Linked DNA regions of Homo sapiens: regions 1, 2 and 3 are each linked to region 4. Evidence: fine-mapped expression QTL. A gene starts in region 4. Each other region holds a variant in brackets. All regions are shown on one strand. Distances are from middle to middle. Region 1 has its middle 37 kb from the start of GPR137B. Region 2 overlaps GPR137B (G protein-coupled receptor 137B). Region 3 holds the start of ERO1B (endoplasmic reticulum oxidoreductase 1 beta). Region 4 holds the start of GPR137B (G protein-coupled receptor 137B).

Region 1 (7,532 bases), 36 kb after region 4:
ATGTCAGCCACATAGTAAATTTTCATTCCTTGCATATATCGCCACCTAGTGGACATCTTTAACCAATAAGATTAAATCCGCTTGGACATTCCAGGCACGATTTCACACTCCTCCTTTCCATCCTGCCATCCTCAGCAACTCGCTGGATACACCTGGACTGGTGCTGTCCGGCCTGCAGGCCGCCAGCCCCATGTGGCTGCTGACCACTTCAGCTGTGGCTAGTTGGAATGGAGACGCGCCCTCAGTGTAAAAGGCATACTGGGTTTTGAAGACTTAGTAGGTGCAAAAGAATGTAAAATACTCCAACAATTTTTTTTTTTTTCTGAAATGGACTTTCACTCTTGTTGCCCAGGCTGGAGTGCAATGGCGCAATCCCGGCTCACCACAACCTCTGTCTCCCAGGTTCAAGCGATTCTCCTGCCTCAGCCTCCTGAGCAGCTGGGATTACAGGCATGCACCACCACGACCAGCTAATTTTGCATTTTTAGGGGAGATGGGGTTTCTCCATGTTGGTCGGGCTGGTCTTGAACTCCTGACCTCAGGTGATCCACCCGCCTCGGCCTCCCAAAGTGTTGGGATTACAGGCGTGAGCCACCGTGCCCAGCCCTCAACAATCATTTAAAATATTGATTATGTTATTATAATTATTGTCATATTTCTTTTTACCTTTTTAAATGAGGCTGCTAATGGCCAGATGCAGTGGTTCATGCCTGTAATCCCAGCACTTTGGGAGCCGAGGCGGGGTGATTACCTGAGGTCAGGAGTTCGAGACCTGCCTGGCCAACATGGCAACACTCTGTCTCTACTAAAAATACAAAAATTAGCAGGGCATGGTGGTGCACACTTGTCATTCCAGCTACTTGGGAGGCTCAGGCAGGAGAATCGCTTGGGTGCAAGAGGCGGAGATTGCAGTGAGCTGAGATCGGCTGAGATCGTGCTGCTGCACTCCAGCTTGGGCGACAGAGCAAAACTCCGTCTCAAAAAAAAAGAAAAAAAGAAGCTGCTAAAAACTTTAAATTGCATATATGGCTCAGCTTTGGGGCCTGCATCATATTTCTATTGGACAGTGAGTGCTATTCTACTCTCAAAAAAGAATCTGGAGGCTTGTGTCAATTCATTCACTAAGTGTGTGTGTATGTAGGCGGGTGTTTCAACCCTCATGATTGACACTTTTCGAAGAGGCCACAGATAAGGAGCCAAACTATACCCAGAGATGTTCCAAGCTGGATAACTGTGTGTCACAGAGAGGCTTCAACAAAAACAGGAGTCAAAGTCACTTGTTCTGATGTTTCACCCTGCCTCTCTGGACTTTCCCTGTGTGCAGCCCAACACTTCACATCTTGGAAGGTGGCTTAGGCTTCTTTCGCAATCTCTAGCCCCAAATCCATTTGCTCATGTGCAATCTAGCAGTCAAGTATCTGGTGCTGTTTTGGTTTTGTTTTGTTTTTTGTTTTTGAGACAGAGTCTCACTCTGTTGCCCAGGCTGAAGTGCAGTGGCATGATCTCGGCTCACTGCAACCTCCGCCTCCCAGGCTCAAGTGATTCTCATGCCTCAGCCTCCCGAGTAGCTGGGATTATAGGCATGTGCCACCACACATGGCTAATTTTTGTATTTTTTAGTAGAAATAGGGTTTTACCATGTTGGCCAGGTTGGTCTCGAACTCCTGGCCTCAAGTGATCTGCCCCCCCTCGGCTTCCCAAAGTGCTGGGATTACAGGCATGAGCCACTGTACCCAGCCTCATGCTGTTTTTGTTTGCTTTGAGACAGGATCTCACTCTGTTGCCCAGGCTGGAGTGCAGTGCCATGATCATAGCTCACTGCAGCTTCGAACTTCTGGGCTCAAGCAATCTTTCCGCCTCATAAGTAGCTGAAATTACAGCCATGTACCACCATGCCCGACTAATTTATTTTTAACACAGATAGGGTCTCACTGTGTTGCCCAGTCTGGTCTTGAACTCCTGGACTCAAGTAATCCTCCTGCCTTTGTCCCCCAAACAGCTGGAATTACAGGGATGAGCCCAGCACACCAGCCCAGCCTGTGCTGTTGAGGTGGAAAGGGCTTCAGATTTTCCAAGATGCTTTCAACAAGAAGCAGTCATCATGCAAGCTGGGAAAACATCCACCTGGCAGATGTAAACGCTGAGGTCCAGAAAGCAAAGGCTGGTGTATTCGATCATATACTATACGTGGATGAAAAACGTTTCAGTCTACCTCAAATTTAAAAAGCAATTTTCTGATTCTGGGAATCATGGCTTGGAGGCATTGTGATTCACCCTTGCAAATTTCTGAGAAATTAGTCGGTAGAGAGCAGAAAGCAAACGTGAGAAGATATAATTAAAGAGGCCAGATAGGGATAAAGGGCTTATTTACATCAAGAGTCTTTCAAAGAAAAGAGAAACCAAGCAGTCAGTTGAATGTTAAAAAAAAAAAAAAAAATTAGAAACAAGGCAAAGACAAATGACCATACCAGAGGAAGCAGATACATCAAAAAGTCAGAAAGATAATGAAAGATGAGAATCTCATTGTAGAGTATACAGGTTTAGATTAATTATCAAAAGCTCCGCACACACATTTGGAGAGAAAAAAGAGAATGCAAATTCAGAGAAAACTCAAAGTCCTCAGTTATTTCCTTCCCATCTCCCTCAGCCTCAGTTTCCCCATCTTATGAAACCAGATGACCTGTAAGGCTCCTTTCATATCCATATTTGTAATTCTACAAAATAAATAGCTGCATGAAGATCTTTTACTTCTCAGTTTTTATCTCCAAAATTTCGTAGCCAATTTTTGTAGAGAAAATAAAAATTACATATGAGCAAGAAAGGCTAATTAAAATAATCTTACCACCTAGAGATAGCCACTGTGAATATCTTTATGTATATTCTTCCCTATTCATATAGGCATACATAGAAATAATTTTGTATAAATTTTATTATGGCCTTTTTTTTTTTTTTTGAGATGGAGTCTCGCTCTGTCGCCCAGGCTGGAGTGCAGTAGCGCCATCTCGGGTCACTGCAGGCTCCGCCCCCCGGGTTCACGCCATTCTCCTGCCTCAGCCAAATATTGCAAGGATGTTTTCTTGTCTTGGTTTCCTTTCCACACCATTGTCTGTGACCGCTGCCAGGTATTTTAGTCTAATGAAAGTATCGGTATAATATTAGTTGCAGTGAAAATGTGTGTCCAGATTGGAAAAGATGAAGAAAGCTGAGAAAAACAACATTTTTCCTTGCATGATGCCTTCTACTTTACAAAAGACTTGTATAAAAGCTTTGTATGGGAGG[C/T]CGAGGCGGGCGGGTCACGAGGTCAGGAGATCGAGACCACGGTGAAACCCCGTCTCTACTAAAAATGCAAAAAAAATTAGCCGGGCGTGGTGGTGGGCGCCCGTAGTCCCAGCTAGCTACTCGGGAGGCTGACGCAGGAGAATGGCATGAACCCAGGAGGCGGAGCTTGCAGTGAGCCGAGATTGCGCCAGTGCACTCCACCCAGCCTGGGTGACAGAGCAAGACTCCATCTCAAAAAAAAAAAACCAAAAAAAAAAAACAACTTTGTAATCAGCCGGGTGCAGTGGCTCACACCTGTAATCCCAGCACTTTGCGAGGCCCAGGCAGGCGGATCATTTGAGGTCAGGAGTTGGAGACCAGCCTGGCCAACACGGCGAAACCCCATCTCTACTAAAACTACAAAAATTAGCTGGGTGTGGTGATGCATGCCTGTAGTCCCAGCTACTTGGGAGGCTGAGGCAGGAGAATCACTTGAACCCTGGAGACAGAGGTTGCAGTGAGCCAAGATCACGCCTCTGCATTCCAGCCTGGGCGACAGAGTGAGACTCCATCTCAAAAAAAAAAAAAAAAAAAAAAAAAGCTTTGTAATCTACAAAGTGTTTTTACATCTTCTCTTAAGACTGCCCAACTAGCAGCGTCTAGCATATGGGTAGTGTCAATAAGTGTTATTAAATAAATGGGAAATCAAACAAATATGCATTATCATATGTATCCTTATGAAACTGGGATTTGGTAGGCCTCATTCTCATAATTTTATGAATGTTTTAAAGCTGCATCTATTACCTTGATAAAATCCATTATAATTTACATAGTATCCACACAGACCGATCTCATTTAAGCCTCCCAGCCACTCTGTAACTAACTAGGGTAGATAGCATCAGTCTCATTAAAGAGAGGCAGAGGCTGAGGTGGAGATAATCAGGGTCAGATAGTCAATCAGCGGAAGAGCTTGACCTTAGACTCAAACCCATGACACTTTCAACTGCTTCCCGACTGTGACCAAATGTCCCGCCCCACCTTTATTTAAGCAGTTTGTGCTATAGTGAGGCAGAGTCACCAGCATGCAGGTAAATGTTTAAAGTTCAGCTCTGGGGGAGTGGAGGGAGCCCTGATTTGTGGAGTTCGCTGATTTCTCTGGTGTGAATACTGCCACATGGCGGATTTGAAACTACTGACACAACGTCATGGTGTCATTGTGTAGAGACGTGCACAATCAGCTCAAAGGTGCTAGCTGGCTCCAACGCATCCCTGGGTGGAATGAACTTTCTTTCCACCTGATCGTTAATTCCTGGAGGCCAGGAACCACATCTCTTTGCAGTTTTCACTGTGCTATGCACACAGACGGCAGTGCATCAGCGTTCGGGCTCAACATCAGGGTTCAGCCTGGGTTTCCCATTCTCTGGTTTCCTCACCTGCCAGCCCTCTTCCCCTGGACCTGGGGAAGTACTTGGAGACAATCCTGCCCCCTTTACCATTTCCCTTTCCTTCCTCTCCATTCATGTCCCGGTCACAGCCTGAGGCAGAGTCATGGGCCCAGTGCAAGAAGAAAGGCCATGGGAACCTTAGGATCTCGTGGGGTTTTGTTTGTTTGGCTTTTTGTTTGTTTGTTTGTTGAGACAGGGTCTTACTCTATTGCCCAGGCTGGAATGCAGTGGCATAATCACAGCTCACTGCAGCTTTGACCTCTACGGCTCAAGCACACCACTATGTCTGGCTAATTTTTTTAATTTAAAATTTTGTTCTAGAGACAAGGCCTCGCCATGTTGCCCAGGCTGTTGGATCTCATGCTTTGTGGTGTTTTTTGTTTGTTTGTTTTTGAGATGGAGGCTCGCTCTGTCGCCCAGGCTGGAGTGATCCAGCAAGCTCACTGCAAGCTCCACCTCCCGGGTTCAGGCCATTCTCCTGCCTCAGCCTCCCGAGTAGCTGGGACTACAGGCGCCTGCAACCACGCCCGGCTAATTTTTTGTATTTTTAGTAGAGACGAGGTTTCACCGTGTTAGCCAGGACGATCTCGATCTCCTGACCTCGTGATCAGCCCGCCTCGGCCTCCCAAAGTGTTGGAATTACAGGCGTGAGCCACCGCGCCAGGCCGCTTTGTGGTCTTTTAAGACCAAGCTTAGAGTCTTCTTCCTGTCCTGGAGTTCCGGCACTCACCTTCTCAAGAAGCTTGGGCAGCTGCTTCCATGGGGGCCAGTGGGAGGAAGAGAGGGAGCAGATGGGAGACGGCTCTGACCCTCAGTACCGCAGGGCCGTTGCTTCAAAACTGAACTGGCACAAAACCCATCAACTGTTTGGAAACCAGGATTCCTGGCTTCTGGTTTTACTGCCCAGGGCTACAACTCTTGGGGCTATTTTTCTTGCCAGACATCTTACTGGGATTTTCTGCTGTGGAGAGCACCTCGTGCTGGTCTGCGCTGATAAAGAAATGTCATTTTCTGGAGGGTTGGTTGATGTGCGGATCTTGAAACAACGAAGAGCGCGCAGGGAGGCGGAGAAAAGACAGACTTTGGCGCCATCTACTGGAAACTTCTGTTTCTGCATGATGTGGATGAATTGGATAAAACTGACAAAATGGAAATTGTATGTATATTCTGTTCTTTGATACATGATTGATGTCGAAAATCTCTTATAAGAAGAAATATAGAAAACATATATTTAATGAATCATGAGTTAAATTCTAACTTCTCCTCTACTAAAACTTCTATCAAATCTGCTGTCAGGCAAAAATGGTTGAATTTTCATTCTACTCCAACCCACCCTCCCTTACAAATACTGTGCTAATATTCAGCAACATAGCAAGGACTAGAGAAGGGACAACAGCCAAAACAAAGGCTGCGCAAGTCCACTGGCCTGAAAATCAAGTCCAGAGAAAAGGGAAAGTGATTCTACCTGCAAACCAACCCAGCCCCTTGTCTGAGGAGGGGGTGGACAGGTACCTCCAGCAACTTCTAAAATCAAGTGACCACAGCAAAACGGAAACAAGAAAAGATGCACCAGCTGCAGTCACCGCCGAGCCCCTGCTTAGCGGCAGCTTTGCTGGAGAGTGTCTCCCTTTTGTGGGGTGGGGCCAGAGCCTCAGACACCTGGTGTTGGGGGCAGATGCCTTCCCTCATTCCAGCTTCACCTTCGGAGGCTGATCTACAAAGGCCAAGCCCCAGGCCGCTGGGCTTCATTTCCACACCAAAGAGCAGAGTCAGCCATGCCTCAGGCTGCTTTCTCTCTGCCACGTTTAAGTTTTAGTTCATTCAAATCCATCTTCAGCAACTTAATTGCCGTACAGTATTTCAGCACACTGAAAAATAACCTTTTCTCACACCGAAAGCACTAGACCTGTTTTTTCAGTGCTGTGATTTGTTGTCTGATATCATTCAGAGCTTTTCAAAAGCTGCCGCCGCTATCATCTTGCAACGGCCTGTGAAGTGGGTGGGAAGGTGCTGCTCCTAGTGCCAAGAGGGGAAACTGAGGCCCCTAGAAGGCTGAGCGCGTCCCGTCACCGCGCACGGCCCCTCCAGTGCCTCAGCCAGGTTCTCAGCCTCTCTGTGATGACTTGCAGACCAGGGAGGTTGACCTCATGTGGAGTTCCGGGTGGGGCCACCCTCACCAAAGCCTGCAGGGAGCTGCTGTCCCACCCACCCACCCCAGGCTGCCGGGGCAGGTGTTTCTGGGGCTGAAAGCAGAAATGTAGGGGAGAGAAAACACCCCCAAGGACTCTGTGGAGAACACTGAGCTGGGGGGTGGGTTGATACGAGTTCACCAGTTATATACATTTTAAACAGAGACGGGGCTTCGCTATGTTGACCAGGCTGGTCTCGAACTCCTGGGCTTAAGGAATCCTCGTATCTTGGCCTCCCAAAGTGCTGGGATTACAGGTGTGAGCCACCGTGCCCAGCCTTCACCAGCTATTTGTTGAGCACCTACTGTGTGCTGGTGGCTTCGGGAAGACAACGACAGACCGGACGCTGTGTTGTCCTCAGGAGACGTCCAGTTAGAAGGAGCAGAGACAATGGTACAAATAACTACCATGCAAGCAGGAAATGGCCACTGTGCAAGATGGGCTGTGCTAGAAGACCTCAGAGCAGGAGCGGCCCTTCCACAGGCGGGAGGGACAGGGGAGTGCTTGGGGGGCCTTTAATGGGCCTCCGAATGGGAGAGTAGGTGTGAAAATGGTTTGGGATCAGATAAATTCTGTGCCCACACACTCATGCACACTCATGCACACTCACACTCCCCACACTCACCCACGCATACACATA
Region 2 (7,430 bases), 65 kb before region 4:
GACACCTATTCCAATAGTCAGAGAAACTATTTCCAACAGTTACCCAGAAACGTTCACATGAAACTTTTCAGTGTTCCATCAGACTTAGCTAAATGATGGCACAAAATTTTCAGTGATTCCCTCTTCCCCATATACTTCAACTTTCTAATCATCAGGGCTTTAATTTCATCGTGTTGCTTTAAAACAAGAGGACATTTGGGTATTTTGCAACCAGTAATCACCATTCCTTTTCCTCTTAGCATTTAATATTCCACATAAGTAGTTTTTTTGTTTTGTTTTGTTTTGTTTTGAGACCGAGTCTTGCTCTGTTGCCCAGGCTGGAGTGCAGTGGCGCAATGTCCGCTCACTGCAAGCTCCGCCTCCTGGGTTCACACCATTCTTCTGCCTCAGCCTTCCAAGTAGCTGGGACTACAGGCACCCGCCACCACGCCCGGCTAATTTTTTGTATTTTTAGTATAGACGGGCTTTCACCGTGTTAGCCAGGATGGTCTAGATCTCCTGACCTTGTGATCCTCCCGCCTCGGCCTCCCAAAGTGCTGGGATACAGGCGTGAGCCACCGCGCCCAGCCAGAAGTAGTTTTGTTAGTGTACCTAGTAGAACAAGTAAATTAGAAAGCCAAAGGGAATTTTAATTTTCCTTACTAAGAAGGAAGGAGAGTTTGAGTAATCAATCATAGTTTTTTTGTATTCCGTGTTTACAACACTTCTAGAAATTTTAGCATTACATTTTTAAAAGGGGAATGAGAAAAATAGGCACTTAGAACATTTTTATACTATCTAACAAAAATAATAGTTCAAATAAATCCCAGTAGCTTCATCATAAAAGTAGGCTGACTTCTCTCACTTAATGCTGGGTATTCCAATTTTTCTGCCAGTAACAACAGAACTGTGTTTACATATTACAGGATGAGTATGATATTAGTGATAGTCTTATCACTATTTTTAAAAATATATCTTCCCTTAGCTGACCTAATACTGAAGGACTTCAGGACTTTCTGAAGATGTAACTTAAAGGAGTTTAAAACATGCTGAGTCTGCCTTTAAATTAACTATTAGTAATACAGTGTGACCACAATAATCTGTTAAAGCTATTTAGAATAATAGCTTATAATGTGTTAAGGCAACTTGAATAACAGTGTAGGGTTCACTTCAGTATAGACTTTTCCCTGATAACTACTTTAAATGCTATGTTACCCCAATTTTTTCATGTACTAGAAGACAAGAATGTTGTTATGTAGGATTATGCAGAGTGAAGGTGTTCTATACACATGAAAAGCCCAATGATGATCAATTTGAAACTTGAGATCCCAATTTTAAATACTACCAAAACAATAGTAGACTTCATCTGTGAAATCAATGCCCAGAGATCAGTTATTCCTGAAGATCAAAATGAGAGGAGTCATTTGAAATGGGTTGCATCATGTAGTAGGACTTGTTAATATAAGTTCCTTTTCATTGAACCTTCCCTCTGTCCCCAGATGAGCATTCCTAGGCAGAGAAGAAACGTGCCTTGTTTCTGGTAACAGTACTTCCTCTAGAACCTTATCTCTGTTTTATAGAAAAGCAGAGCATTTAGCCTCCCAATAGGCAGTTTTATGGCTCCAGGATATATATAGTGGAGTTTTTAGAATGGCACTTCCGGTCTGGGAGGCAGTACTTCATAACCTGTTTTTTACTTAAATGAAAGATGACTTACAAGGAATTGTCTGGAACATGGCTGACAGGCATCATGCTACAGCATATTGCAGTGCTATTGCCATTTTTAAATGTGCAGCTTCCAATAGGCTCTTTACAGAGCTATTTAGAAGGGCATTATTTTAAATATAGTTGGAGATTACGGAAAAAACTATTAGGATTCCACATAGTCTTAGCTCAACGGCTTGGGGTATTTGTTATTAATGCCCTTTATGGACCCTCTTATTTTCTCCTTGAATGTAATGAACATTCAGTGAGTTCGGAAAGGGGTGTATTCTTGATGTGGCCCTGAGGTAATGCATATTAGATTTCATTAGGCTGAAAAAAAACTATGCAGAATCTGTGAACATAGCAGA[G/C]GAGGTTTAATAGGATAAGTCAGCTACATTTTTAATGTTATCAACTTATCATTAATGTGTATACATTAGCGCCCTACTGAAAGGAAGTACCAGTCTTTGGGCAAAACTTAAGAGATTCCTTGAGGAACCTACGGCCTGAACCTTAAAAAAAAAATCTCTAAAGACCTTACAGTCTGCTGCTTTACCATTTCATTTTAATTATCAACACTGGAGTTGCAATTGGCTAAGTTGTCAACTGTATTTTAGGAGTCTACCAATGTGGCACTCAGAATCGGAGTGACCATCAGTGACCTAAAGAGGTAAGATTTGTGGAATACTTTAGTCCAAAAGCTTTAAAAAACTATTAGACCATATATTCTATATTTTTAAAGTGAATTATGCATAAAAGTCTGTGCAAACTACAACATGATTGCAGTAACATTCTCAAGAAAAAAAAACCCTAGTATACTTTAGCATTATTATTTAAGTTATACAAAATACATCTTTATAAAAGTACAGATTTTCTTTAAAAAGTTTAAATTATACCCACTGAAATAGCAAGGCTCCCTCTTTAGTACTAAAATAAGGGTTTATCAGTCTACATTATTGCTTATTCCTATGGGGCCATTGGAAACCTGTAACAAATAAAAATCAAGTTCTATTTCTTAAGGAAAAGTGCCCTAAAAATTCAGCTGTCACTATGCTTTTCTGAAGCTTTTCATCTGAGGAATCGTCCATAAAACTGTTAACTGATGCTACCCAAGGCTTGGTTTGTCAGGATCCAAAGTTGAGTCTTGCAAAGTTCCTGCTTGTGCCAGGAAGCTGTTAGTTTGTTGTCCCCAATCATAGTAATCTGGAGCAAAACTTAAAAAGAAAAAAATATTTCAGTGACTTGAAACATTATATAGTATGTATGACATAGTCTAGTTTAGGTAGACAGAGCTGAGATTTTTGTGTAAACTATAGATAACTCTAAAGTTCTTTTAAATGGCTCTTAAAGTCCATTTTCCCACAAAACCATGCTACACACAGGGCTGAAATGCCCACCGACAACTCTACTGAACTCTTTAGAGCACAGAGTATACAGCATGACTAGAGAACCCAGCCAGTCACTATGCATAGGAAATGTTTTCAGCAACAAACTGCATCTGAATCCTAACATGGAGTACAGCTCACAACCTGTGGTGGTGTCTTTGGACAAGTAACTTCTATGCCTCAATTTCCTCATCTTAGAATGGGAGTAATATTAGTAACTACGTCGTGGGCCTATTGTGGGGACTGAGTTAACATCTGTAAAGTGCTTAGAACAGTGTCTAATATATAGTTAATTCTCAATACACGTAAGTCGTTTTCATTATAATTATGTTCCTCTATGTAGTAGAAAGGGGGTCTTGTCTTCACCATATCGGTAGTGAGGACTCCCTCAGCTCTAAGTCATTTCTGGCAGGTGAGAGGGTGGGACAGCTCTAGCAGAATATGGGTTTAAAGGGGAAAGCAACTAATAGGAGATGCAGTGGGGTAACTGGAAAAGAACAGTTTTAAGGAAGAGGTGGAGCTCAGAATCTGAGTGACCCAAAGGACAGCTTTTGACTTCAAGAAGTCCTTCTTGTTTGTTGGCTTGCTTCCAGCTTACGTTCTTTACATCTGCTGGCTCAGCGCATTGGGCAGCTTTCTTCTTTTTTCTCAGCGACAATCTTTTATCCTATCTGACCAGGATTTCTCTGCTCCCCGATCACTGAGAAAGCATGTATTCTCCCAGCTTTTCTTCAGTACTTCTGTCCCTAAAACAAGGACTCTTTTCAGAGCTCTCTTAAAAAGTTTTCTAAAGACTTTCACTGTTACTAACAAGGAGTAAAAAGGCAAGCATATATTTTTTATCATTTCATCCCAGAGGGAAAAAAGTTGTAAAGTTGTTAATGCTAAGTCTTTAATCTTACAAAAGATTACATAAGATAACCTTTCACTTTCTAAGAAGCTCCCCTTTCCCAGGAACAGGATGGGGGTCCTGAGAGGACAAGCAGAGAGAAGACAGGCTTGGCAGGCACTATGTCAGCCCTTTTGGCTCCTCTCACCCCTGCTGGCCTCACCGTCTCAGAGCCACAGGCTGAAAGGGGAAACATGATAGTCATCGGGTAGTGGAGTATGGCTGAGCACAGCAGGCTGAGGAAAAGGGAAGGGAATCCCAATAGCAACTACCCTTCCTGTTTGCAGACCATGCCCATGCTGAGGTAAGCAAAACTTGGAATCCTGGGGTGGATCTCTGCTATGGTTGCAATTTCAGGTGCTTCCCTCTTTTTATTTGCCTTCCCAATTCACTGAAGATTAGGCGATGGCAGCGGACTGGTAGTTCATGTATTGTCTTACACCCTCTATGTATGCTGCTTTGAACTCTCAGTATTTAACTGCCCTTTCCACATTTTCTGGGCCAGATCCGCATGTAGATTCAAGGAAGGAGACTCCTGCTATTAAAACTCACGTGAAAGTATAACATAAGCGTAGGTGAGACTAAGAGACAGGGTACTTATATACAAACTGTTTACATAGTATGGTGATTCAGAAAACAAATTTGAACAAAACTGCCTGAGTTAGAATTGTAGCCTGATCACTTGCTAGCTGTGTGACCTTGGACAAGTTACCTACCCTCTAGATACCTCAGTTTCATCTGTATTATGAGGCTAATAATAGTACTGACCTCTCAGGACTGTTAAGACTAAATGAGTTGATATTTGTGAATCTCTTAGAACAGTGTCTGATACAGAGTAGATGCTATAGAAGTATTTATTAAATAAGTATTCATGAAAATTGAGACCAAATAAATACCCTTCATGTAAATGAAATTTTAAATTAAGAACTGACATCATTCAAATTTGAAAACTTGGTCCTTTATAATGTATAATTTATTCTAATAAATAAATACTACTGCATTTACTCTCTAGCTTTAGAACATGTGATTAAAGATATCATGTTCCATTGAGTGATTCCATAGACAAGTGCTGTATTTCCCTCTTGGAGATTCAGAGCACACATTAGCATATTACAGGCTCGCTCGGCATTTTCTAAAAAGTTTTTTTTCTGGCCGGGTGCAGTGGCTCACGCCTGTAATCCCAGCACTTTGGGAGGCCAAGGTGGGCAGATCACTTGAGGCCAGGAGTTCAATCCAGCCTGGCCAACGTGGCAAAACCCCGTCTCTACTAAAAATAAAAAAATTTGCTGGGTGCGGTGGCGCACACCGGTAATCCCAGCTACTCAGGAGCCTGAGGCACAAGAATTACTTGAACCTGGGAGCGGGAGGTTGCAGTGAGCCAAGATTGCACCACTCTGCACTCCAGCCGGGCAACAGAGTGAGACCCTATCTCCAAGAAATAAAAAAGTTGATTATCATTTCCTTTTGCACAGCATAACTATTAAGAAAATAGTGTTTCATGGAATATTGTTTAGGAAACACTACTGTATACAATAATGCTATGGGGCTTTAAAAAAACCGGATGTCCTTTCTCATTCCTGAATGTTTCACATAAGTAAAATGATCTACTGAGAATCCAGTCTTATACCACCTAAGGCTGCACAGTTTTAACGTAGGAATTTTCTTTTAGCTTGAATCTATTTAACTGGTGTAACCCTTCCCTCCTGATGAGGCTTGTCTAACATGAAGTAGGGTCTTACCCTCCCTGAAGTCCCTGAGGGGCAATGTTCCAGGCAAGGTCATCATCACTGTCATATCTTCGAGGGTTGTCAAAGAAATAAGATCTGGGACTGAATCCATGGCTGGGGACCATTCCAGGGTTGGTCTAGAAAGACAGGTAATCATTCAGCATACTTACAGACATCATGCCTTGCACCAGACAAAAATAAGATCTCTTTCTTGTAGGAGACTAAAGATGTTCTATTCATTTGAATGTAGGCTATATCTGTTCAGCTGGAATATTCATTTCAGTTACTCTTATGTTTGAGAGGGATTCGCCTTGCCTTTTATCAGTATGGGCAAAGTCTTCTATCAGAGTCTTGCTTGCAACAGTGAGTCATCATTGTTTTAATCCCTTATTGAAAAGCTAGATGATGAGTAACTATATGCCAATAAACTGTAAAATCTAGAAGAAATGGGCAAATTCCAAGACACATACAGCCTACTAAGACTAAACCGGAAAGACTAAAACCCGAACAGACCAATAACAAGTCTTTTATTCTACCTAACTAGAATTTCTCTGCTCCCTAATCCACTGAGAAAGCAATGTTTTCTCCCAGCTTTTCTTCAGTTCTTCTGTCCCTAAAACAAGGGTTCTTTTCAGAGCTCTCTTAAGGTTTTCTAAAGACTTTCACTGTTAGTAACAAGGAGAAAAAAGGCAAGAGATCAAAGCCATAATAAAAAGTCTCCCAGTAAAGAAAAGCCTGGGACCCAATGGCTTCACTGCAGAATTCTACCAAACATTTAAAGAAGAACTAATGTCAGTCATACTCAAACTAATCCAAAAAAAATAGAGGAAGAGGGAGTACTTCTACACTCATGGAGGAGGCCAGTATTACCCTGATACTAAAACCAAAGACACATAAAACTGTAGGCCAATATCTCTGATAAATATTGATGCAAAAATCTTCAACAAAATACTAGTAAACCAAATTCAACAATACATTGGAAAGATTATTCATCATGACTAAGTGGGATTTATCCATGTGATACAAGGATGGCTCAACATAGCACAAATAAATGTGACACATCATGTTAACAGAATGAAAGATAAAAACCATATGATCATCTCAATTGATGCTAAAAAAGCACTTGATAAAATTCAGTGTTCCTTCATGATAAAAACCCTCAAACCGGGGAAAGAAGAAACATACCTCAACATAATACAAGCCATATATGACAGACCCATAGCTAGTATCATACTGAATAGGGGAAAACTACAAGCCTTTCCTCTAAGATGTGGAACACACAGTCACCACTGTTATTAAACATAGTACTGGAAGTCCTAGCTAGAGCAATCAGACAAGAGAAAGGGCATCCAAATTGGAATAGAAAAAGTCAAATTAATGACTCCACAAAAAGTATGAGAACTAATAAATTCAGTAAAGTTGCACAAAAAATCAGTAGCATTTCTATATACCAAGAGTGAACAATCTGAAAAAGAAACAAAAAGTAATCCCACTTATAATAGCCACAAATACCTAGAAATTAAACAAAGAAGTGAAAGAGCTCTATAATGAAAACTATAAAACATTTAAAGAAACTGAAGAGGACACCAAAAAATGGAAAAATATTTTCTGTTCATGGATTGGAGGAATCAATATTGTTAAAATGGCCATACTACCCAAAGCAATCTACAGATTCAATGCAATCCCCATCAAAATACCAATGATACTCTTCACAGAAATAGAAAAAACAATCCTAAAATTTATACAGAA
Region 3 (7,532 bases), 140 kb before region 4:
AGCTGGAAAAATCAAGCAACAATTTTTTTTTTTTTTTTTTTGAGACAGAGTTTCGCTCTTGTTGCCCAGGCTGGAGTGCAATGGCGTGATCTCAGCTCACCGCAACCTCCGCCTCCTGAGTTCAAGCGATTCTCCTGTCTCAGCCTCCCAAGTAGCTGAGATTACAGGCATGTGCTACCTTGCCCGGCTAATTTTGTATTTTTAGTAGAGACAGGGTTTCTCCACGTTGGTCAGGCTGGTCTCAAATTCCTGACCTCAGGTGATCTGCTCGCCTCAGCCTCCCAAAGTGCTGGGATTACAGGTGTGAGCCACCACACCCAGCCAATTTCTTTTTGCTTTTAAGCTAGGGAAGATCTGGACAGTTTGGAGGCAGAAGGGAAAGAGTTGCTGGAGGGGAAAAGGACAGGCAGGACTGGCTTCATGGGCATGTGACCTATGCAGTCAGCCACCCCAGGACCCTGCATTTGGTTTAATGCTCTGCTGGTTCTGAAAGGTATAAACCACTATGTGGTAGGCTGATTAATGACCCTCTATTTATAAATCCTCATCCTAATCTCTGGAACCTGTGAATATGTTATCCTATATGGCAAAAGGGACTGTGCAGATGTGATCAAGTTGAGGATTTTGAGATAGGATGGTCTGTAACCAATGTAATCACAAGGGTCCTTATACAAGAGAGACAGAAGAGTTAGGGTCACAAGAGAAGGCATGTGACGAGGGAAGCAGAGAGAGTGAAGGAGATGTGAAGTCATGAGGTAAGGAATGCAGGTGGCCTCTGGAAGCTGGAAAAGGTAAGGAAACACATTGTCCCTGAGAGCCTCCAAAAGGAACACAGCCCTACAGGTCCATTTTGGACACCTGATCTCCAGTACTATAAGGTAATGAATTTCTTTTGTTGTATGCAACTAAATGTGTGATAGTTTCTTACAGCATCAATGAGAAACTAATACACGCTACATAAACACAAGGGAGATGTATTACTCGTTTTGTAGAAATCAAAGGCATTAATAAAACTAATAGCAGTTACCATTTATTGAGTGCTTCCTAGGTGCTAGGCACTATACTCAGCTCTTTCTGTATCTAATCTTATGTAGCCCTAGAACAAGATATGAGGTGGGAATTAAGGCCCAATAACTAGCTAGAATGTTTTAGAGTTGGGATCTGCGCCCAATCTATGTCACTCTAAGTTTTTTTTTGTTTTACCCCATCCCCATATTTCATCATAAGCCTTTGGGTTTGTCTTCATTCTTTAGCATGCGTTATACTCGCACGTGTCAACCTAGGAGTCGGGCTGGGGCGGGGCAGGAGATGACATCCACATCTAGGGTGCATGAAATTAAAAAAGAGCCGAAGCCATCTCTACAAGTCACAGGTAGCTTACATAGGCACCCACAGCAGATGTGAGGCTACAGAAAAATGAATGAGACAAAGAATACGCTTCAGACCGAAAGTCAAAGATCCCGCACCGTCCGTTCCTAACTCGCCCGCGTACTGGGTGAATCCTAGAGCCTGGCGTCTGCGAGGACTCCAGGAGCGACAGCAGGGACCGACGCAGAGAGGTCCTCAGCCTGGTTTCCCGGAGAAGAGGTCGCCCCGCTTCCCCCGCCCGCACCCCCCGGTGTTTTGGAGGCCCGCGTGGTCCCGCCTCATTGGCCGCCGCGGAGCCCGAGGCCTCGGGGAGGCGGGGCGGCCTTCGCAGTTGTAGTTCCCGAGTCCTCTCGTTCAGCGGCTCCGCCTTCCTGCCGCGGCGCCTAGGCGACCGCCCAGGACCACAACTCCCACAAGGCCCCGCGCTTGGGGGCGTGGCCGAGGAGCCAAGCGAGCCGGGGGCGGGGCCGCCTGGGGGATGAAGTGGGGGCGCTCGCCTTTCCTGCCTCACTCGCAGCTGCCGGGTGTTGGGGAAAGAGTCGCCTGCCTCCGGACTGGAGTGCAGACCTCTGACCCTGGAGTCGCTCGGCCGCTGGGAACCGTCCCCTTGGGTCGTCGCCTGGGCCGCCCGTCGTTCCCCGGCCCCGAGGGGTCCGGCTGGCCGCGGTGTGGGTAGAGGTCAGCATGAGCCAAGGGGTCCGCCGGGCAGGCGCTGGGCAGGGGGTAGCGGCCGCGGTGCAGCTGCTGGTCACCCTGAGCTTCCTGCGGAGCGTCGTCGAGGCGCAGGTAAGCCCGAGTGATAGCGGGCCGGGAACCCCCGGCCGAACACCCGCGGCCGCTACACACGGGCCGCGGCTGTGACGCGGGGAGGGCCGGGCAGGGCCGGGCCAGAAAAGAGGTGATTTCTGGCGAGCAGAAAACCCGGGGAGCAGAGACCTGACCGTCCAGTGCGGGAAACATCTGCGAACCGCCCGCAGGGTGGGGGGACGGCGACACTCCGGGTAATGGCAGTCAAAAGAGGAAGATGGTGACGGTCCCCCTGAGCTGTTTTCGTTTTTTCCTCTCGGATGTGTTAAGCGGCTGGGAGTGTGGCGGGAGATGGGACGGGCATGAACCACCTCGGCTGTCTTGCGAAGGGAGCGAGCGCCCAGAGAAACGGTGACGTCCTTCCCTTCAGGAGTTAGTGAGGGAGGGAGACTGAGAGTTGGGGGCACTCCGCAGACCCCCGAGGCCCCGCCAGGCGCAGGGGATTGGGAGGGGGCAAGACTTCACTCGAACTGTCGGACTAGAGCTTTCTGGGCTTTTACTCTTCCTCGAGCACCTTCCCTTGCTCAAGATTGCTTTATTTTTACCCAGCTGAGCTGTGTCTGCCAAGTGGCATCGCCAGGTAAGTCCCAATACGAGACTGGGGGGGTCTGAGTGGGGCGTTGTGGCTCGTGGATGGAGGCTCTGGCTCTGGCAGTCGTGAGGTGCTGGCTGGTTGTTGATGTGAAGCGATGATTACAAGTGTTCTCAGTGTGCTAGAAATCTGAGGCTTAGCTGACCAGATCCTTTCGCCTTCAGAGAGGTGTTTGCTTCTATTCAGTAGAATTTGAATTGATTGCCAGGTGCTGCTGCTTGTTGTCTGCACCTGCTGCAAGGAGGCAGCACTGCTGAGGGCCAAAAAAATAAAACGAAGGTCTCAGGTGGCCTGATGATGAGGGGAGATGTCATTTGAAGCAATTAGTGCTCAT[C/G]CAAGAAAAATTGAAGGTGACTCTGAGTGTAACCGTGAAAACATGTTTTTCTGAATTGAGTCACTTTATTTCATGGTTTTATGGTGCCCTGCACTAAATCCCAGAGTGCCTGAATAGTCCGTTTGTGTCTGTGTTTGAACCATAAAAATAAAAGGGGCAAATTTTTGGTATTGGGGAACATGTTAAAATGCAGATTCTCTGGCCCTACCTCCACATGTATTGATTGGATCTGGAATATGGCCCAGATATCAGCATTTTAAACAAACATTGCAAGTACAGTATAACTGTAGCAAAGTTATCTTTTGACTACCTCTTGGACCTCACTTGGAAAACACTGAGATGGAATAGATAGTGGTAATCTGGGCAGACTTACTAAAGTAAATTTTCCAAATTGTCTTTGGCAAAATTATTTTCTAGTCACTAGTTGAGTGTTTCTGAGTGAAATTTACAATTCGATATTTTTCTGAAATGAGAGTTCCCATTTTCTCTTTTTATATAGCACATATTAATTTATGCTTATCTGTCTAGAAACTTCATTTTAAATTTTTTTCATTTACCACTAATTATGTGTAATTAATGTTTTATAATTTCACCTGTATTTTTAAAATTCTTGTGTAGAGATGGGGACTATGTTATTAGGCTGATCTTCAACTCCTGGCCTCCAGCGAGCCTCTTACTTTGGCTTCCCAGGTGCTGGGATTACAGGTGTGAGCCACTGTACCTGGCCTGCCCCTGTACTTTTAATTTCATTATATCCAAATGAATATAAATATAGTCCAACAGTTAAAGATTTGTGAATATTTGAAGTAGCATTGTGCCAAACAGTCTTCCAAGTGAATATATTTGGTTTTTGTTGCCAGCAGTACTTACTTTCTTTTTTTTTTTTTTTTTGAGATAGTGTCTCACTCTGTTGGCCAGGCTGGATGCAATGGCATGTGTTGGCTCACTGCAACCTCTGCCTCACAGGTTCAAGCAATTCTGTCTGCCTCAGCTTCCCAAGTAGCTGGGATTACAGGTGCTTGCCACCGCGCCTGGCTAATTTTTGTGTGTGTGTTTTTTTTTTTTTTCCCAGTAGACAGGGTTTTGCCATGTTGGCCGAGCTGGTCTTGAACTCCTGACCTAAGGTGATCCGCCTGCCTCGGCCTCCCAAAGTGCTGGGATTACAGGCGTGAGCCACCGCGCCCAGGCCGCCAGCAGTACTTTCTACTGTGCTGTTTTTTTTTTTTTTTTGAGATGGAGTCTCGCTCTGTGTCACCCAGACTGGAGTGCGGTGGCGCCATCTTGGCTCAGTGCAGCCTCCACCTCCTGGGTTCAAGTGATTCTTCTGTCTCAGCCTCCCGAGTAACTGGGACTATAGGTGTGTGCCACCACACACGGCTAATTTTGTATTTTTTAGTAGAGATGAGGTTTCACCATGTTGGCCAGGCTGGTCTCGAACTCCTGACCATAGGTAATCCACCCGCCTTGGCCTCCCAAAGTGCTGGGATTACAGGCGTGAGCCACCGTGCCTGGCCTGATCATCTTTTAGATAGTACTTTAATCTATAACATGGTTACACGTACAATCTCTCCGAAGTGGGACCATTGAGGTAATTGAAGTTCAAAGAACTTAAATGTCTTAATTGAATGAGTGACTTTACAGTGGAGCCCTAATGTGGAACCCTTTCTGGTCTATACAGTATGTTGGTATTTTCAGTTCTCTCTAGTATAGAAAAAGAGATGGAAAATAGGAAAATCAAAAAGTGGAATTCAGCCAGTTCTTTGACTTCATCCATATAATAAATTGGTAGAAAACTGATAAAGGGAAGAATTAGAATTTTTGAAAACTACCTCTGTTCACAAGAAATCAAAGTCATTAAAGGAGATACATATTTTAAATGTTATCCCCTTCCAAAATAAAAGCAGAAAAATATTTTTGAACACACAAAATGATACGTGTTTGTATATCTCATGCCCCATTATCGTATAAATGAAATGTAAATATACTTTGGTGAAGCACTGGAAACTAAAGGCATAGTGCATACAAGTGATATAACAATCTTCCTTTAAAAAGTAATTTCAATTAGATATATGTAAGTTTTTCTAAATGCATTTCTGAGGTGGCATAAAATTGAGTAATACACAGAGCCCCTCAATATATGAAAAGCCAGAAACTTAGAACTTAAATAGTGCTATACCAGTCCGTTACTCTGAGGGCTTCTCCTAAACCCTAAAGATCTTGAGCTGCTTTAGCAGTTGCATGGAGTGGAGTGGGCAAGAAATAACCCCGTGTCTGCCCAGTGAGAGGAAACTAATAGGAGCCTCCACCATAATTCATTTCTCGTTTACCCTTATATTGAGGATGTAGCTGTTTGGAGCCTGGACTTCAAACAATTACATCCTCAGTATAAGGGTAAACGAGAAATGAAACCCATTCTAAGTAAAGGGAATAAAAGAAACTTGCTGGGAGAAGCAGGGAAGAAACTTTTGAGAATTTGTAACCATGAGACAGTCCTCACACAGGTTCGCAAGCCAAATATTTATTCTGGGAAAATTCATAGCAGTCCCAAATTTGTGTGCCCTGGGTTTCCAATAAAAGCAAATATCCATCACCTCTGGAGGAATTTATTTTCAACTCAAACCTCGAAAAATTATTGAAGATGAAGTGCCAAGGAGAATAAACAGCTAGCAGTAAAATATCACAAAACACCCAAGGAAACAGGGCACCATGAATCAGATATTAGACAACAGAAACAAACACATAATGACCTTAGGTTCTGAAATTATCAGATAATTTAATATCACTATGTTTAATGTGTTCAAATAAAAAGAAACTTGAAGTATAGAAGGGAAAAAAGATTTTAAAGAGTGGCCAAAAAGATTTTAATAATAATGAATTAGAAGTTCTAGAACTGAAATTTAAAACTCGATGGATAGATTAAATAGCTGATCATATCCAGCTGAAGAAATGATTATTGAATTAGACAACCATTTCATGTCTTTTTTCTTTCTCCTTAATTCTCCATCACCTTTTCATCTATCCTTACTCTCAGTTCATACCTTACTAAAATTGGAGCAATCAGAAGAGAAATTCCACAGAGTAACCCATATCTATCCATTTACTAGTCTCTGTACCCACATATTTTGACTTCCTGTTGGTTACCATTGATGAACTGTGTGCTTTTATCAAAGGCAGCCCCTTCACTTGTATGTTAGGTCTCATTCCTTGTTTGCCGCTCATGGACATGGCTCCAGTAATCTTCTCTTTCTTTCCTGGATCATCAGTTTTTCCTTCTCAAATGGAATTTTACTGTCATCATGTATTAGTCCATTCTTTTTTTTTTTTTTTTCCTGGAGTAGAGTCTCGCTCTGTCACCCAGGCTGGAGAGCAGTGGCTCGATCTCAGTTCACTGCAACCTCTGTCTCCCAGGCTCAAGCAATTCTTATGCCTCAGCCTCCCAAGTAGCTGGGATTACAAGCTCCTGCCACAACGCCCAGCTAATTTTTGTATTTTTAGTAGAGATGGGGTTTTGCCATGTTGGCCAGGCTGGTCTCAAATTCCTGACCTCAAGTGATCTGCCTGCCTTGGCCTCCCAAAGTGCTGGGATTACAGGCGTGAGCCACTGTGCCTGGCTTAGTCCATTCTTGTATTGCTGTAAAGAACTGCCTGAGACTGGGTAATTTTTAAAGAAAAGAGATTTAATTGACTCACAGCTGTACAGGAAGCATGGCTGGCGAGGCCTCAGGAAACTTACAATCGGGGAAGTGCTGCACACTTTTAAACAACCAGATCTCATGAGAGCTCACTATCAGGAGAACAGCAAGGGGGAAGTCCGCCCCCATGATTCAAACACCTCCCACCAGGCCCCTCCCCAACACTGGGGATTATAATTTGACATGAGATTTGAGTGAAGAGATAAAGCCAGACTATATATCATAAAACATGCTGCTAATTCTACTGTTTTAAAGTTATCTTTTCATCCACATATTCCTTCTGCCTTTGCCTATTTTTTCTGTTCCCTCTAGAAAATTCAAGAGTTAGATTTAATTTATTCTTCCTTTGCTGGTTCTTCTATTTTTCAGCCCATTCTAATCAGACTTTTGCTCCTACCGCACCTCTGAAACTGCTCTTGGCAAGGTCGCCGATGTCCTCCTTGTTGCTAAGGCCAACGGTTTGTTCTTAAACCTCAGCTTTACCTGTTGGCGGCATTTTTTCACAACTCATCACTCACTCTCCTTGAAATAATTTTTATTCTGACATCCTGGATACTAAACTTTTCTGATTGTCTTCCTGTCTAGTGGACCAGTCTGTCTTAGCATTCTTTCTTTGTTCCTCCCCTGCCATTGACTGCTAATCATTTGAACCTCAGGGTTCAAAGCTTGTACTCTTTCTTCTCTTTATCTTAGTCATCTCTTCTGGTCTCTTAGCTTTAAATACCAAATGTACAGTGGA
Region 4 (7,532 bases):
TGTGACCTTGAGCAAGTCATCTACGACCTCTCAGCCTCAGTTTCCTCCTCTGGAAAATGGGGACAATACCGGTACTTTCTTCAGAGAGTTCTGGTAAAAATAAATATAACCAATTGCTTAGAAGTGTGCTTTCTTGGCCGGGTGCGGTGGCTCACACCTGTAATCCCAGCACTTTGGGAGGCCGAGGTGGACAGATCACAAGGTCAAGAGATCAAGACCATCCTGGTCAACATGGTGAAACACTGTCTCTACTAAAAATACAAAACTTAGCTGGGCATAGTGGCACACACCTGTAGTCCCAGCTACTTAGGAGGCTGAGGTAGGAGAATCATTTGAACCCGGGAGGCGGAGGCTGCAGTGAGCCGAGATCGAAAGTATGCTTTCTTAAACATACTTCTTAATTGTTAGCTGTCAGCCCCTTCTCCAAAAATCTCATTTACTTGGTCTGAGATGGGGGCCCAAGCAACAGTCATTCTTAAAGCTCCCCACTTTAGGTAATTCCAATGGTTTGTGTAAGAGAAAGAGGGGGTGAGCGGGAGAGGAGGAGAAGGGAGGCAGAGCTGGGTTGGCGACAAAAGGCTTTATAACTCCCCAGAAGTATCACAGTTTTGTCACTAAGCCAGAAATGGCTTTGTTCTGCCAGGCTCTGAGATGCCAGCACTCAGAGATGGAGACATGCCACCTTCTCCAGCCAGCCACCCTGTGCCCTCAGGCGAAAAGCCTTTGCTGTGGTGCCCGCAGACCTGGGAGATATAAAGAGTACAGGGCCGTGACTTTGGGCCCCTGGGCCGGAGTGGCTCTGTCTGCCTGGTCACTGTTTCCCTTGCTCAGCATTTACTCACCAACCAGCAGATGGTGCAGAAAATGTGCAGCCCGGCCCCTAATCCGGCTCTAAGTTCAGAATTTGCATGTGATTACCAGAGAGCTGTGGCAGTTCCCTGCATTTTCCTCTTCCCCCACTGCCCCCCAAAAAGGGGACAAATATAAAGAGCTCAACGTGCAATACCACCATTGTCACAGTTCTTAGGGTAACATCACCTCACCTGTCTTTTGCATCTTGCTAGAACCACCTCATTTCAATTACAAAACCCAAGTGTCTGTGCAATGCAGCCGACTGCCTGAACTGGTTTGCAGGTTTAAAGGTTGTACTTGGACAGGCAATACGCATTACTCTCCGACCGGAAAATATGCTGATGCGCTGGACTTACAAGAAGTCTGAGTGTAGACCCATTTTTAAAAGATTATACTATCTACAAAATATCACATATGCTATTTTTTAGCCAAAAGTACTTCTTCCATATTTTCAGTCAGTGGCTTCCACTGTACCAGAGCAATCCTTTTCCTACTTTGTTTTTTTTGTTTGTTTGTTCGTTTGTTTTTTTGAGACAGGATCTAGCTCTGTCACCCAGGCTGGAGTGCAGTGGTTCAATCTCTGCTCACTGCAACCTCCGCCTCCCGGGCTCCGCCTCCCACCTCAGCCTCCTGAGTAGCTGGAACTACAGGCGGGCACTACCACACCCAGCTAATTTTTGTACATTTTGTAGAGAGGAAGTTTCGCCATGTTGCCCAGGCCGGTCTCAAACTCAGGGACACAAGCGATCCTCCCGCCTCCGCCTCCACAATGCTGGGATGACAGGCATGCGCCACCGCATACGGCCTCTTTCTTTTTTTAAATAAGTGACTTTTTCTCAAAAAAAAAAAAAAAGACACTTAAAAGGAATGAGATGCCTGCTTGCACAGGGTTTCTGCCCATCCGACAGTTCTGAAATTACCCTCACCAGGTGACACCGTTGACGCCTTCCCCTTCGGCAGAGTCCTAGTGAAAATGGACATCTTAGTGCTTGGAAAGCTAATGGGAATCAGAGATGATGATGACGATGATGACGGCGGCACCGCGTTATTAAACCTTTGTGCAACGCTATACAAAGTATTTGCAAAGTGCTCAACAATTACTGCACTTTCATTAAGTCAACCATCAGCAGTAAAGCAGCAGCCAAGTTAATTCACATACTCTCCCATTAGCTTATTTAATAATATGCCCCATAAAGTGATTTTTGTGTGGCTGTAAAAGAGCCCCAGTCAGCTTTTATGGCCTTTTCTTGGGGCCTCTCAGATGAGCTCAGACAGTAACTCTGATGAGCGGCAGCAGCTCGGAGCTGGGTGTTACCCCAGCCTGCTGTTTAGCAATCCGGTGGAATGAGTTAGTAAGCCGCAGTTCTGTAGAGCTCCTAAGCCGGAGGTTCAAAACATCTCATCAAAACCAACATGGTCTCACCCTGCCAACGCTCAAAACAGCAGTGTCAGGCCCAAATCTGGAGGCCAACGTGCAGAAGACCTTTCCAGGCCGGGAGTTAGGTGCCTGGGGAGGCAGGGCAAATTCTAGAGTTCAGGCCTCCCTTGGGGGCACACCTTCCATCCGTACTAACTGGCGTGTGCAGGCGCTGCTGCTTCGCGCTGCGCACGGAGAAGCGCCCCGAATCCACCGCACGATGCGGAGCCAGGGGCAGCGAGTGAGCGGCGGCCTCCAGCCCTCCCCTGCCTTCTCCTTGCCCCTTTTGGGAATGGCAGGGGGTTTCCTATGACAAATGCCCGCAAACAGGACAGGGTTCGGACGACCCCAGAGCCGGCGCCTTCTCCCTACACTCTCAGCCCTAGGGCCGGACCCGCCCCCGCGGCTGCCATCGCCCCTGCCTCGGGCGCCCCGCGGGGACCACCCCGCCAGGTGAGCGCCTCCAGGAGCCTCTCTGAAACTCACCTGCGTGAAGTACAAGTTCATCAGCGTGAGGGTGAAAAACTGCAGGCACACAGGGAAGCAGTAGAGCAGCCAGAAGACGAAGGGGCTGAGCGAATTGGCCGCCACGAAGTCTTTGAAGTAGAAGGAGAAGAGGACGGTCCGCAGGGAGGCCCAGAAGAGGCAGAGAAAGAGGAAGACGCTCTGGTAGCTGAGCCGCTTGTGGCGGTAACGCAGCACCAGCCAGAGCTGCACGTAGATGAACACGAAGAGCAGCGCGTAGAACACGGTGTAGACGACGGTGAGGCCAAGCTTCACGTAGGGGGGCACGGCCGGGGTCAGCGTGGGCGGCAGCGAGTCGTTGCGGGCTGGGTCCCACGGCGGGGTCTCCATCGGGCCGGGGGCGCTGCCGCGCGGCCGGGGACGCTCGGGCCTCATCGGGGCTCACGGCCGCCGCCGCCCCCGCGGGGGTCTCCGCGCATCGCGCTCAGCCTGCAGCCCCGAGACTGGAGGAAAGAAAACAAGCCGCACTTCCTCCCCCGGCACCACATGATTCACTGGGACGGCCTTTGTCTGCGATTGGCAGCGCCGCGCCCGCCGCCCCCGCGCGCCGACCGGCCCCGCGCGCCCCCGCCCCGGCCCGCGCGCCCCCGCCCCGGCCCGCGCGCCCCGGCCCGCCCTCCCCCGGGCACCGCGCGCCTTCGCCCCGCGAACCCCGGCCCGCCCTATCCTCGCCACCGCGCGCTCCCGCAGTGCGCGCCCCCAGAGCCGCACGCCTCCTCCCGGCCCCCTCCCCATCCCCGGGGCCGCGCGCTCCCAGACTGCGGGCCCCCAGAGCCCCGCGTCTCTTCCCCCCTTCCCGCCCCCTCCCCATCCCAGGGGCCGCGCGCTACCCGTCCCCGGCCCCTTCCCCATCCCCGGGGCCGCGCGCTCCCGCACTGCGCGCCCCCAGAACCGCGCGCCTCCTCCCCGGTCCCGGCACCGCGCCGCGCGCCCCCAAAACTTCCCAGCCGCGCCCCGCGCCTCGGGGGATCGCACTCGTGGCCTCGCGCATTCTGCTGCTGATTGCTTGTTTTGCAGAAGTTAATTCCTTTATTTAAAAACAAATTTAAAAAAAAAACTTTACAAGTCCTTTCCGTCCCCCCCTTTAAAAATAAAACTTTACGACTCTGTGGCTATGAACTGGCCGGCGTCTGGAATGATGTTTATTTCTAAATGCAGACATGCCAAAGACAGGGTTCGTATTTTTGAGGTCAAATTTGTATACTGAGTGAGGAAATAGACGGTGCCTGCGGCTGCTGCCTCCTCTGGGATGCAAGCTGGGCTGTTTTCTCCCGGAGAGCCTCACGCGCTCCCAGCGCCTCACCTCCCAGCGATGTAGCCGGTGCCGGGAGGCGCGCGGGCCGCGGGTCAGTGGATGGAGCCCACTGGGCTTCAGAGAGAAGTGGGGCAGCTGACGGCACACGGCCCCCCTTGTCCGATCCAACCCATGCCGAAGGAGGGTCTGTCCCCGCCACCCGAGAGCCCTTCTCTTTTGCTTTTGCTGAGCAGCTCGCTCCTCGAGGCTGTACAGCGACTTAGTCTTTGCCCCGGGGCACCACGCCACCCTTGTCTTGGGAGAGCTGGGGAGTGCTCTGGGAAAAGAGGGAAAGCCGGGCGCCCTCTGGAAACATTGCTGGGCAAGCGGTTCTGGTAAACAGAAGAAACTCGGATTTCCGAGGCTCCAGTAATTGTGATTTCTTTTCTTACTCCACTTCGTGCCTAATTGTGTGTTCTTTTTCCAAAAGACGGCCTGGCATATCCAGAATCCACCCTAGCTTTTGCTCAGAATTACTTAGTGGTTACAGCGCTCCCAGCGTATTCCAGGTGGTTCACTGGGGCCAAGTGTGCCTTTGGCGTGGAGCTCCTTTTCCAGTTTTTCTATCCTTTCCCTCTCTCCCTATCGCTATTTCAAGAGGAAATACGGAATTGGGCTCCACGCCTCTGATCTCGTTCCCCTCAATCCCCGTTCTGAACAGCGCAAGTGGAATGATGGAATGATCGCTCTAAAGAACACCTGGCCACTTTACTCCCGTGCTTAAATGCCCTTCCCTTGCTCCTCATAGTTCTGGGGTTAGAGTCTAAACTCCTACCCTAGCTTACCTCCCTGCCTTATCTCTTCCAAGGTGTTAAGCAGTGTTAACACCTCCTGACTCCCCTAGACTAAGAAAATTCTGCCCTTTCCTCCAACAGCTGGTCCTTCCTAGCTATCCATGAGGGTGTAACTTCCTGCAGAGAGCCTCTCCAGAACTCTCCACCCACCAAACTCTCAGGATTAGGCTAGGTGTTTCACCTGTGTGCTTCCCTAATATCCTTGCCTGATTGTTAGTTTCCCCCGCAACACACTTATTTATGTGTCCTTATGATAGAAACTAGGCTTGTTTACCAGTCTCTCCCCTGGCACATTGGAAAAGCATCCGTATACATTTTATTACACTGAAGGAATATTGTTTGTCAACAGAGGTCCAGACTCTGATATTTCTCCCTCCAGTGTGCATGGATTCTACCTCATGATCCAGGAGGGCTACTGGCTCTCCAGACATTGAGTCCACATCCCAGGCCAGCGTTAGGAGGAACAGGGGAAGACTAAAGAGCACTTGTTTTCTCCTGTTTCTGGAGCCTTCCCAGAAAGACCACATAATGCATCCACTTTTAGCTCATTGCTAGGACTTAATTACCCTAGCAAGCTGGCTACAAGAGATTGGGAAACGTAGTTTTAGTCCACGTGGCATTGTACACAGCTGAAAGCCATGGTTCTGTAATTATGGATGAAGGGGCGAATGGATTTAGGAAAAACTAGCATCTTTATCATGACTTCAAAGCAGACAAAAAGAATGCCAGATGGCTACAACAGTTCACCTCTTTGACTACCTAGTGTCAAATGTTTCTTATCATCTTTACAATTCTGAAAATACAATAAAGATGCTCCCACTTAATAACCCTTGTACAATTGAAAAGCATTCCAAGCCAGGTGCTCACACCTGTAATCCCAGCACTTTGGGAGGCCAAGGCAGGTGGATCAACTGAAGTCAGGAGTTCGAGACCAGCCTGGCCAACCAAGTGAAACCCTGTTTCTACTAAAAATACAAAAATTAGCCGGGTGTGGTGGCACATGCCTGTAATCCCAGCTACTAGGGAGGCTGAGGCACAAGAATCGCTGGAACCCAGGAGGCGGAGGTTGCAGTGAGCTGAGATTACGCCACTGAGCTCCAGCCTGGGCCACAGAGTGAGACTCCATCAGGAAGGAAGGAAGGGAAGAAAGGGAAGGAAGGGAAGGAAGGAGGGAGGGAGGGGAAAAAAGGAAGGAAGGAGAAAGGAAGGAAGGAAGGAAGGAAGGAAGGAAGGAAGGAAGGAAGGAAGGAAGAAAACAGAAAAACACATTCCCTCTTTCCCCCAAAAGGATCATCATTTTCTGTGTCCAGCTCCAAGCCCAGGAGCTCTGGGTGATAGCCATTCCTCCAATTCTGTCACCATCTCATCTCAACATTCTGTATCTTACGGACTAAATTATTAAGTTATCCATCACTAGTTTGTCCTGTATAAAATAGTAGAAGAAAAAAATGTAAAGGAAAGGAGAATTCATTATTAGGTTGGCGCCAAAGTAATTGTGGCTTTTTGCAATTAAAAGTAATGACAAAAACCACAATTACTTTTGCATCAATTTATAAAATACATACATATGACACAGCAAGAAAAAAATATAAGTTAGAGTTGTTGTTTTTCTGACTGGTCATAAAGCTGTAATTGCTCTCCTTAATGGACGTTACAAAATTTCCCTTTCCCTTCATCAGGGATCTCAGCTAGTCAGGGGTAGCCCTGATTTCTGAGGAATCTAAGCTTGTTAATGTTTGCCACTGGACATGCCAGCAGCAAGAGGCACTACCATGATTGAATTCTGTCTATTCACCTTTTATTGCTCATCATATAACAGCAACTCTACTTCCTCTTAATAGTTACTGTCATCACAGCCAACACCATCATACTATTTTTTACAATTCACCCACTGGCATGAGGAGTCTGAAATAGCCAGGGTCTCAACTTTTATTTCACTTAAACCACACTTGAATCTCCTGGGGTAGAAGAGTTCCTCCTTGGTTACTAAGACCTTCAAACTAGCCAAGCCTAGAGGCGAAGGAACGGGAAACAAAAAAATTTGCAAGTAAGTCACTGAGTGTTAGTGAAAGGTGCCATTCTCTTGGTTCCTGTAGCCATGTATCCTGACTGCAGGACAAATAGCACGATATGTCAGCTTTGGGTTCAGAAGAAATTCTATATATTATAGGACACCAATGCTACCTTTCTGTGCATTGTTGTCCTGCAGGCACAATAACTAAGCCTACAATTGGTCATTCCACCACTGGATAAGGCCAGCTGCTACTTGAGGGACAGAAATTAGCCTACCACGTTTCTTCTTTTAGTATAAAGTGAGGTCCTTGGTCAGAGCAATATTGTATAGGATACCATGATGATGAGCAATGCATTCAGAAAGTCCCGGGACAATAACGCAGGCACAGGAGGCAAAGAAAGTCAGTCCAAGTTCAGAAACATTGTCTATTACAGCAAGGACAAATTGCTGATATCCTACGTGATTAAAGAGGTCTATATAATCTGCTTTCAGGTGGCTGTCTAGGACTTCCCCTGAGTTTGAAACCTCTTGAAAGGCTCAGAGTTGGCTGGCGATACTCATGAAAAGCCAGGTCAGCCTTGGTGGGGAAGTCCAGATTGTTACAAAATGGATCAGTCAGTCCCTGCCTGCATGGTC

Evidence for each region.
Region 1: its variant is fine-mapped to the expression of GPR137B in whole blood (TOPMed, PIP above 0.99).
Region 2: its variant is fine-mapped to the expression of GPR137B in blood mononuclear cells (TOPMed, PIP above 0.99).
Region 3: its variant is fine-mapped to the expression of GPR137B in whole blood (TOPMed, PIP 0.98).

Annotation. Positions count from the first base shown.
Region 1 is chr1:236,102,075-236,109,606 of GRCh38, reverse strand. No RefSeq gene overlaps it. Among named protein-coding and RNA genes, the nearest start is that of GPR137B, 37 kb to the left of the region's middle. The variant C/T (reference allele first, on the strand shown) is at 3,280.
Region 2 is chr1:236,203,514-236,210,943 of GRCh38, reverse strand. It overlaps GPR137B (G protein-coupled receptor 137B), which reads right to left. Exons shown (of 7, transcript NM_003272.4): 6 at 5,694-5,818; 7 at 2,037-2,894. The coding sequence ends at 2,786. Among named protein-coding and RNA genes, the nearest start is that of GPR137B, 65 kb to the right of the region's middle. The variant G/C (reference allele first, on the strand shown) is at 2,052.
Region 3 is chr1:236,276,304-236,283,835 of GRCh38, reverse strand. It overlaps ERO1B (endoplasmic reticulum oxidoreductase 1 beta), which reads left to right and starts at 1,878. Exons shown (of 16, transcript NM_019891.4): 1 at 1,878-2,154. The coding sequence starts at 2,053. RefSeq lists silencers at 1,534-2,123, 2,164-2,213 and an enhancer at 2,284-2,483. The variant C/G (reference allele first, on the strand shown) is at 3,102.
Region 4 is chr1:236,138,260-236,145,791 of GRCh38, reverse strand. GPR137B (G protein-coupled receptor 137B) reads right to left here and starts at 3,253. Exons shown (of 7, transcript NM_003272.4): 1 at 2,756-3,253. The coding sequence starts at 3,169. RefSeq lists an enhancer at 2,526-3,029 and silencers at 2,995-3,264, 3,335-3,514.